2 separate regions of the Homo sapiens genome follow, and region 2 is linked to region 1. Evidence: fine-mapped expression QTL. A gene starts in region 1. The other region holds a variant in brackets. All regions are shown on one strand. Distances are from middle to middle. Region 1 holds the start of BCL9 (BCL9 transcription coactivator). Region 2 overlaps BCL9 (BCL9 transcription coactivator).

What was found. PIP is the estimated chance that this variant, and not a neighbour inherited with it, causes the effect.
Region 2: its variant is fine-mapped to the expression of BCL9 in whole blood (TOPMed, PIP 0.97).

What each region holds. Positions count from the first base shown.
Region 1 is chr1:147,539,161-147,544,537 of GRCh38, forward strand. BCL9 (BCL9 transcription coactivator) reads left to right here and starts at 2,341. Exons shown (of 10, transcript NM_004326.4): 1 at 2,341-2,514. RefSeq lists enhancers at 1,999-2,293, 2,012-2,766, 2,327-2,386.
Region 2 is chr1:147,596,211-147,601,587 of GRCh38, forward strand. The region is part of intron 1 of BCL9 (BCL9 transcription coactivator); the gene reads left to right. Among named protein-coding and RNA genes, the nearest start is that of BCL9, 57 kb to the left of the region's middle. RefSeq lists an enhancer at 1-326 and silencers at 3,120-3,199, 3,230-4,279. The variant C/T (reference allele first, on the strand shown) is at 2,453.

The DNA.
Region 1 (5,377 bases):
GACCCTTTATGCAATTCTTGCCTGGGAGGCCTCATTGTGTATAGTGAGTCACCACCACTTAGAAGTGGACAGTGAGTCAGTAGCCTATTAAGGGGAGGTCAGAAGTTCCCCTGGCTCAAAATGAAAGGATCCAAACCCAACCCTGGGGTACAGAAAAAACAGTGTACTTATATGGCTGACTGGACTTGAAGTGCCATGGAGTACCTGGACTACTCCAGTGAGAAGGCATAATATGGCGGGTAAACGCTGGGGCTTTAGAATCACACAGGCCTCAGTTGGATTTCAGCTCTACCTCTGCCTTGCTGTGTGACCTCAGACAAGTTGCTTAACCTCTCTGTGCCTCGTTTTTCTATCATCTGTAAATGGAAATGATCATAACAAAAATTACTTCATGATACAAATGAGTGGGAAAATGCTAAGAATCAAGTAAATACTTAAAAAAAGGTTATTATTATTATTATTATATTACCACATCATCATCATTAATGGGAGTCGGGACAGACAGTTCAGGGATCAGGGATAATGGAGGAGCAAATTAAGGGGGAAAATAACAGGAACAAGTCTGTGTCTTTGATGTGGTGAGTTTTAGGTAGTGACACCTCATTTAGCTGGTGTTAAGTATGAAAGAAGTCATAATTTATTCTTTACTGCATACCTATGAAGGAATGAGTGATGTGTGTTCTCATAATTTCCATTTTGTAAAGGAAGATTCTGAGGAATAGAGTCTAAACAATCTTCATGAAAAAGTACAGAACTGATTCAGCAGCAGTTAGGAGCTAAGCTTCCATTCAGATCCTGTTGCATAGGGATAACTCTTCTGGCCTAGGCAGAGGAGACCTTGTTAGGTCTGTGAGTCCACAGTATCTAAAAATATGAATGTCATATAATCATCCTGTCATTCTTCTTCCTGATCTCAATTGGCCCTCCTGATTTCATGCCATCTGCAAATTTGCACATCCTTTGTGCTCCTTTTTGCTCACATTTTATGCCTTCTTTTACCATCTCATTTACTCTGCATGTTTCAATCTTTCTGGGCTTCCATTTTTCTTCTTTTTTTAATGCAGTGTTGTTTCTCTCTCTCTCTCTCTCTCTCTCTCTCTCTCTCCACTCCTTTACAGCCCCCACCTCCTCCCTCCACACCAATCAAATTCCTGCTTGTTTCTTGCCATATTCATTATCCTACCTCATTCCCCTCTTATTCCTAGAAAACAGCACACTCACCCTCCCCTCCTCCAACTCTCAGGCCCACCCTCCATAAATTCCAGCAGCCTGGCAATCAGTAACTTTAGCATCACACTTCACAGCTCTCCTAGTTTACACTACTTGTTACTACTCTCCTTGCTACTGCTCTCTAGGGTTTCTGCTAAAATAAAAAATAAAAAAAAATAAAAAAAGCTTCACTTTAAAAATATCTTGGGTACAAGTTGAACCTACAGTTAAGTTTACTCACACATTTACACATTTCATGATTTTATTTTAACTAGTAGCTCAAGTCCATGCTCAATTATGCAGTGAAAGAAGGCTAGATCCTTAGGAAACAAATTTTTCTCTATTGTAAAGAAGAAAAATCACCTAACCACTCAACAGAAACCCCAGTCCTGGGGCCACTCACCCTCTTATCTCCCTACTCCCCCAATCTCCAGCTAATGGGACTTTGCTTTTTCCTTTGTCGGGTCATTTATTTCACTTTTCCTGGCGCTGAGATGGCCTGAGTCTGTGTATGTGTGCACACGTGTGTGGCCACTGCTTTTCTTCCAAAGGACTCACCTCTCTTCTGCCATTTTACTAGGACACAGGAGGCGGCTCTCTGCTCTCGCTCTCCCTCTCTTTTTCTCCCTGCCCCCAACTCAGCCTGGGCTTTTTCCTGTCTCTTAACTCCACCAGTGCAGCAGCAACTAGCTGAGCTGCTTGAGAGAGAGAGAGAAGAGAGAGAGAGAGAAGAGAGAGAGAGAGAGAGAGGAGAGAGAGAGAGAGAGAGAGAGAGAGAGAGAGAGAGAGAGAGAGAGAGAGAGAGAGAGTGTGTGTGTGTGTGTGTGTGTGTGTGTGTGTGTGTGTGTGTGTGCCTGCGTGCGCAGCTAGGCCAAGCCTGCGAGCCTGCCTGTCACTGGAGAGTTTTAGTTTGCATTCAGAAGAAAGGAGGAGGGGAGACAAGAGGGGAGGAGGAAAAGGTGGAGGGGGGAGGAGTGGGGGGGCGCAGAGAAGGGAGGGAGAATGTCTTGTTTGTGGCTTGTCAGCAATTGCTTGAGACAAGCTTCCATGTGTGAAAGCTACTTGGCATGAATGCCTGGGCCGTACCAAGTGTCACCGCAGCAAGAGGGGGAGTCAGAAGAAAAACAGATCAGACCAGAGCAGACAATAGGCCCCTAAAGTGTTCCCCCTAAGTTGCTTTGATGTTGTCCTGGTGTCTTGATACCAGGAGGCCAGGGATTGCGGGAAAAGGGTCTTTTTTGTCTTCATTCACTTTCCCCCCTCAGTTTCTGAAATGATTCTCCAGAATTTCTCCTCATAAAAAAGGTAAGAGCCCTAACAATTCCTTCTTCGGTGGCAGGCTTGTTCGCCTGTGCCTGGAAGTGGGGGTCTCATTCCTGCGCTGCTCTGGAGGAGCGCTGGGGTCCTGCGATTGGAGCTCCTGCGTTGCCCCTGGAAGTCTTTCAAGGCATCCAGGACTGGGGATGGCCCCTCTTTCGAGGGAACCCCAGTAACACGATCTGTGCCTCTGGGTTGGTGGGGGAGAAGGGGTGGATGGAGAGGGCTGGGAGGAGGGTGTGAGGGTGGGAGGGAAAAGAGAGAGAGAGAGGGAGCGCGAGAGAGGGAAGCCTGGAAAAGAGGGAGAGAAGGGCAGAGCCTTGGTTCAGGGAAACCCCAGCCCAGAGCCCAGGGAGGCCTTGCAGGCTCCGAGCTGTGCATTCTCAGGCTGAGCAAGGGCCGGCCAGGGCTCCGCCGAGTGACTGCAGAGATTGCATCGAGCTTTGTGTGTGCCAGTGTGCCCGTGGGTCTGTGTGTGCGTGTGGACTTCCCACACACTGCCCTGGCGTGCCTCGCTGTGAAGGGGAGGCACCCCGATCCTTACCACCCCAGCCCAGACTCTCCGAGGAGGAGCGGCATGGCAGGCAAGAAGGGAGAGCAAGAGAACTCTGCCACAAGACGATCCAGAAACTTTTCCAGTCTCAGGGATTCCTCTGGTCGTAGAGACTGTTGAGTTGTGGGGTGCCCCGTGCCTCAATTTCCCCATCTGTAAAATCAAGGTTGCTGATCAGGGATGCTGTATGCCTCCCTGGGATTGAGCGAAACAGAACAGATCACTGTGTCTGAAACGCGTGGAGAAATCGTCAGCTAGAGATGCTGTGGAATCACAGAGTAGAAGTGTTATCATTATTCTTGATCATCATCATCAGGGTAATAAAAACATCATTAAAGACACCCTGAGACAAATAGACTGAGGAGCACAGATCAAGTGTCTGAGCATTTCTAAGGAAACAAAAAGCCTTGTTCCACCTGTTGGCTTCTGTCCTTTTTCTCTTGTGTCTTTTCGTTAGATTTATTGGCCGATTTGTACAGAGAATGGGGTGGGAGGGGTTGGGTTTTCCCCTTTCCTCCTCCTTGTACGTATTTTTGTTTTAAAGAAGGTCAATGTAAGATGCTTGAGCGAGAAAATGTGCCTCCTGGTATAGTAGTTTATTCAAGACCTTGTGTTTTCTGGGGCTGGCAGGGCATGCAGACGCATCTGTAAACTCTACCTTGGAGGTTAAAGATTTTTATTGTGGCTTTTAGAGATTAAATGAGATTTATTTACAATTGCTGTTTATCAGAGAGTAAATATCTTACTGTGTGTGTACGAGGCTAAGAATGTGAAGGCTGTTTACTCGCCGGTGGTTTTGTGGATAAAACCTTTTGCTTTTTCAAGTGACATCTTGAGGGATGGAACAGAGGGCTAAAATCAGTGCCTAACATTCATCTTAACAATTTTTTTTGAGGAAAAAAAATGTCTGCTTATTTTCTTGAATTGTGGATTTCCTTTCTTCTGTTCCTACACATTGATTGTTTAAAGGCTCTCAGTTGTAGCTCTCTCTGAATTCTCTGGAGGAGTTCTGCTTTCTTACCTAATTCTAGGTTTTCTGTGACTCTGCTACTTGTCCAAAAAAATCTGTAAAAGTCTAGGAGGCTGTGCCTCCTTCCATTCTAACTGCAAATGTTTATCAGACTGACTCCCTGTGATAGCTGGAGATTGAAGCAAAGGGCCAGCCCTGGCTGAGAATATTTATGTGCTTTTCACAGAGGCCTGGAAACCTGACTTCTGAGTATGGGAAAAGCTGAAGGAAAGCCATTAGTTGGCCTGGATCTGGCAAGAAGGTCCCCCTACATTTAAGGTTTTATTAAAATAAAGCTGTATTTTATGCATATATATATCTGAAAACTTAGTTGTTTTCTACTTTATAGTCAGAGATCTTACCATGGTTGTTCCTGACAAGATTTCAGGGTCCAGATATCTTCCTAAAATGTTAGAATTTAAGAACTGCAAGGAAAAAGAAGTGTTATTCCATCATGTTATAGATGAGGATGTTAAGGTCCAAGAGAGATAAGCACTGATCTGAGGCGGGTGCAACAAAGCTGTGGTAACATCTAGACCACACCCTGGGGTTCAGAGTACCCCAAGGGTCTTCATGCCGGGTACCCTTACCTCACACCCACATTTGATTTTACAAACTCCAGCACTTGGCCAACCAAAGAGAGGCACCTTTTGTAGTTCTGCTTGCTGTGCTGGATTACAGCAGCACACTCTGCCCTGCTCATGTCATCAAATGGTACAAATATGCAAACATGGGTCCACAACATGAATTTGCATAAATTCATTCATGTATTCATTTGTTCATTCAACTTATATTTTGGGGCTCTTTACTCTGCAGCAGGCAAATACTGGGCACTGAGGATATAGGAAGAGAAAGGCAGATATACCCCTGCCCTCAGGGAACTTACAGTCTTGTTGGTATGATCAACATTAACCACATGGTCACACAAACCAGTAATCATAATATTGATGATACTTGTTGAATAGCATGCAAGTATTATGACGGAGTGCATAGAGTTGCATAAGTTATTGACTCAAAGTGTGTAACTAGACATAAGCTAACTGTTCTCTTTCTCTGTGTGGCTGAGTTCCCCTTGCCCCAGCCAACCTCCATTCCACTGGTGCCATTCCTATTCACAGGGAGCCCAGCAATTCCAAAGAGCAGAAAATTCTCCTTCCCTCTCTCACCATCCTTCACTCTCTCTCTTTTTCTTAGCACACAGACCAACAAATAATATCTGCTAATCCCCTACACTTGTGCCATGAAGTAACTTCACTCTTGTAGTGAGCAGCCTAACATTGTTACCTGGA
Region 2 (5,377 bases), 57 kb after region 1:
AATTAGTTTTAAATTTTCCAGCCAGGGATGAAGCTCTGGGACTCCCCCATTGACTTCAATAGACTGGTGAAAGGTAGGATAAGGAGATTTGTTTCTTTTGCCTGGAAAACCTAAAAAGAAATAATTTCCTGGCTATGTTATTACAGCATTGGGGCACAGCACTATGAAAGTCAAGAGATTAGATTGACTTTCTTTTTTTTCTTTTCTTTTTTTTTTTTTTTGAGACGGAGTCTCGCTCTGTCGCCCAGGCTGGAGTGCAGTGGAGCGATCTAGGCTCACTGCAAGCTCCGCCTCCCGGGTTCACGCCATTCTCCTGCCTCAGGCTCCCGGGTAGCTGGGACTACAGGCGCCGGCCACCACACCCTGCTAATTTTTTGTATTTTTAGTAGAGACGGGGTTTCACCGTGTTAGCCAGGATGGTCTCAATCTCCTGACCTCGTGATCCGCCCGCCTCGGCCTCCCAGAGTGCTGGGATTCCAGGCGTGAGCCACCGCGCCTGGCCGAGATTAGACTGACTTTCTAATGGTTAGATGCTATTCCATTCTAACCCATCATTTTCAATTATTAATGACTCTCTTGGTAGTATTCTTTTGGAGCTGAAATTCACCAGTTTTGGTGAACAATGAGGTAGATGAATCGGTAATAAATATTAATAGTACAAGCAGCAGGAGCCCATGGACAAGCTGAGGGCTTTGACCAAGGCAAGAATTTGTTAAGCCCTCTTATAACCCTGATACTAGCTGGCTGAGTGGGCTCAACCTTTGTTAGTCTTGGTTTCATCATTTCTGAGGAAGACTTTCATATTCTCTCCTACAATAATAAATATTGTTAGGAATGAACAATCATTGGAATTTAGAATACTGCTGTGGAGTCTTGGACTCAAATTCTAGTCCCTAAAACTGAGCATAATCTTGGCAAATCATTGAACTTCTATGCCTTAGCATTCTGTAAGACAGAATGGAATTCCTTCCAATCCTAAAATTTAGGTTTAAGTTTATCAAGAACGGAGGAAACAAAAGCACTTGTTGCCTCAACTTGAAAGTGGAGTTTACAGGTGGAAAAACTGGAGGCAAACCTAACATAAATGCTATGATTAGCTAAAGAACTAAGAAGTCAAACTTACATCATCTATGTTTGCAACACAGTGAGTGCTCATCATTATGAGAAGCAAATTTCAGTAAGTGAGAAAATCAAAACCAAGTCTCTTTAGCATCAAAATCCTTTATTTTTAGCAATTTTACCATTTGGGTAAAAAAATGATTTCTTATCTTAAAATTTCTAGAGTAGCAGTACCAGTTTGAAGCTCTTATTCATAGGATGCTTTTAAAAAAGCATTTCATTATCCATTAATGTTTATGTATATACAGTGTGTTAAATCCTTATACACCAAAATAGAATTCTTTCTCAAGTGAGATGAAAATGCATACAAGGTAGAAAATTCAGAGGGCAAAAATTCTAGTAAAATAACCTATTTAATAGAATAAATCCTAGTTTAAAACACATTTCTATCCCATGTGCAATGTAGCTAAATTACCATTTCTATGGAACCTCTAACCTTTAGATTTCATGACTTTTTAGCGTGCTTAAATTCTCAATAGTATTATTCTTTTACCCTAGTGTCGTATGTTTAATATTCATTTGCATTTTTCTTCTGATTCAATAATAATTTTGAACTTTGACACATAATGGCTGCATGAGGGCTTAACGCTTAGTAAAATGGCTAAGACTTTCTTTTAACATGTGTATTATTGTTTTAATGAGTTTGTTTTGAGCTTGCTGAGCAGAGGTGATCTGGTCTGGGATTCCCCCCAGGCCAGAGCTTATTTTGGCAGTGGTTTTCTCTTATAGACAAGTTCTGTGAGTTCCTTCTTTCCACCTACATTAGCAATCCCAAATGTTTCTTGCATATTGCTGATTTGGTTGTCTTTTCTAATACCATAAGAAAAGTCCGTAAGTCCATACCTGACTTTTTCCTCCTGCCTTCTTTTACAGGGGTTCTTAGCTATGTTACATCAAATATTCTATGCCCCAAACTTGACAAAAGGCATTTTAATTATTTTCTATTTGGAATTCTTCAATTGATCTTGATATTGTTTATACCAACTATTGCCTTTCTTCTTTATTTAATTTATATCCTCAGTCATGACAGAAGACAAAGAGAAAATACCTTGCCACAGTTTTTCATAGGATCTAAGCAGGGGAGGCGGCTATGGTAACTTACGTTGACCAGTTAAAGAGTTTTAAATGATTTCGAAAGCAGATCGGCTTTATCATTTAGGGCTCTCTTGACCATCCTTTACAACTAGCACCATTCCTTAAAAGGTTGCCCAAGGAAGGTTTCCTTTAGGAAGGGAAACTGACACAGGAATAAGTACCCTGGTTAAAACCATGGGTGATAGAAGCAAGAGCAGAAGATTTATCTCGTCCTCCTGGCCATATTGCCTCCATCTGT[C/T]TCCAGGGAGAACACGCAGTACACTCTAACATGGGCAGTCTTCACCTAACGGATCCAGAAGAGCTGCGGGGTCAGTGCACACAGTTGCCGAAGCAGCTAACTTAGATCAAGACCCCACAAGGCACAAGGACAGAGGTGTAACAACAGTGTATTCTGGGGAGGGTGCAGAGCAGACAGATCTATAATAACGGTTGTTCACCGCAGCAACCGGGGCCACACAGATGGAGCAGAATAGCCCGAATCTGAGCTTTGATTCAGCAACATGCTCTAACCATGATGCCGTCATTTTTTCCTTCTGAGAAAAAGTGTAATCTAATGGGCTACCCTCTCACAACAGCGCCGGGATACTCAGGCTTTGACCCCTTCAGAGCAGAGGTCTTCCGAAAAATTAGGGGAGCTAGCCCGGCTGTGAAGCGACGTGAGGTCCTGGACAGAGGTTCCCTCTGTGGGCACCAGGCAGCGATGCCTGAGCCAGGCTGGGCTGGGCCGGATGTGAAAGGAGACCCCTGCACCCCCGGCGCATCAGCGGGACTCCTGCACTTCGCAGAGGGCGGAGGAGAGCGCAGTCCTGGGTGGGGGCTGCTCTCCTGCGAGGGGAGAAAGCCGGCCATGGCCCAGGCGGTGCAGACTCAGAGGTGGAGAGAAGGGACAGGAAAGCGGGGTGGAACTGCGTCCCGAAGGTGTGAGGAGGTGGCCTTGAAGGTTGAGGGCTAGGCCGGGACCTGGGCAGCAGGGAAGAGTGAGGGAAAGACCGGCTCTTCAATTCGTTTCTGTCAAAAGATGGCCAAATTCCACGCTGCCCTTCCCCCTCCGCGCCTTTCCTGGCCCCCCGCCCCCCTCGGTTGCTCCCAGGACTGCGCGAGGCGGCGGGAAGGTCCGGGAGAGTGAGCGCGTGGGGAGGAGGGGACGGGAAGAGGAGACCCTCCCGTGCCGAACCTCCCGCCCCGCCGGCCCCTCAGGAGGCTCTGGAGTTGGGGACTAGAGCTCTGCCGCTTTAAGGGGGGAGTGGGCGTCCCCTCCAGCCGGGTGACGGTCCGGGGCGGGCCCTGGCGGGCGTGCCTATGCAAACCAGGAGGTGGTGCCGGCGGTGGGCGGGCCCGTAGTAAAATATCGGGGGCGGGGCGGCGGGAGGTGCGGCTGCCTGGTGGGCAGGGCCCTGCGGGAAGCTGGGGGCGGGAGGAGGCCGCGGCGGGTTGGTACCATCGCGCGCGTCTGGGGAGGGGGACGAGCGACTTTCCCTGAAGGGGCACGAGCGACTTTCCCTGGAGGGGCGGGCCCTTGCTGGTCGCGGGGCCGGACGCTGAGGCGGGGCGGGGCGGTCCCGGTTCCCCGCGGGCGGGACGTCGGGCCGGTGGGGAGGGGGCACCCTCCGCTCGCGTCCGAGGCGGGGCCGGCTGTACCTTTCGTGGCGCGGTGCGGCGGGGGAGGGCCGAAGGGAGGGAAGGGGCGGGACCGGGAGGGGGGAGCCGGAAAGGGGGAGGCGCCGGCGGACAATGGAGCCTATGTGTGCTTGCCGGAGTGGGACGGCGCCGCCGCCGCCGCTGCCGCCGCCGGGGGGAGACGCTGCGCCGCCGCTGCCGCTGGCCCCGGCCCCGCGGGGCTGAGAGCCGCCCCGGACCCAAGCCTCTTTCCCTGCTCCGCACCTCCTCTCCCCTCCCCCACTCCTGCCTCCGGGGTAAGTGGCACCTGGGGGAGGGGGAGGGGAAGGACCGGAGCCGGGGGTAGTGGGGGCCAGGTCCGCGTCCGCGTGTTTTGAGCCGGTTTGGGGGCAGGGGTAGCCACAGCCGCGAAGAGCGGGGTGGAGGGGGGCAGAAAAGGGGCGGGGGCCAGGGTTGCGGATTTAGTGAGGCGAGTCTGGAGGAACCTGTGGGGGGAGGTGGGGGTGCTTCACGGGCGGTGGAGAGAGAGGGCATCTCTTCTTTTTTTCAAAGGTTGTGTCCCAAGCAGTGCTTGGAGAGGTTAAACCAGGAGAGTGAGGACAGTCCCAGGGTCCTGGGATGCAGGAGTGTTGGAGGGGCGAGATGGAGAGCTAAATAAGGGAATTGGGATTGAGTTTGATGAGGTCTGTAAGACCCCTGAGATGGATAGAGGTAAAGGGGACTTTGCAGGCCAGTGACTTGTTGAAGGGTAGGGGAGGTGGAAGCTAGGAAGAATGTGTGAGTAGTTAAGGGCCCAAGCAGGTGAATTGGTGATGTCTAGGTCACTGAGTCATTGTGGGGGTCTTGGGACACACCAGTGATTTCCAAAGTGGAGCCTGAGTCACTGGCCTTTGAAAGTTGCAAAGACTATTAAGATGTCACTGATGAGTGTTGGGTGAGCCTGGTGAAATGGAGATATCCTAAGTAAAACAACAGCAGGGTTGGTTATTATGTCCAGAGGGAAGGAGAGGGAGGGGCCAGAGGCCTGTAATAGTATTGCTGGGGGCCTTATGGGAAGGCTACCAAGCATGAAGGAGGAGGCCAGAAATCTGTCCTCCAAGAGGTCTGAAGGAGGGGGAAGGAAAAATGGGTTTTTAGTGATAGGAGAGACTTAGAGCCTAGATTGGAGTCCAGCTGGGGACTAATAAAGTTACTAGATAAGTTAGAGAAATGGACATAACTATCTCTTAGTGGAGAGTCTGTAAGATGGGATAGAATTGATGCAAAATTTGACTTTGATTACAGCAAACATAGGTAAATCCCTGGCAGTGATTTCAGTGGGGAAATGATTTTCTATGTAAAGAGTTACATTTTGGTCAATGATGGGTATTGGAGTATTAGTTAGCACTTGATATATTCAGGAATTAAATGTTCGTTTTGGGGCAGAGATTTGGATTTGTGCACTGAGCAAAGTGATGAATTAGAACTAACAGACAGTAAGGATAAATTGTAAAATCATTGAGAGATGGGAGGAGGGGGCAAAAGGATGTTGGAGGTAAGACTCATG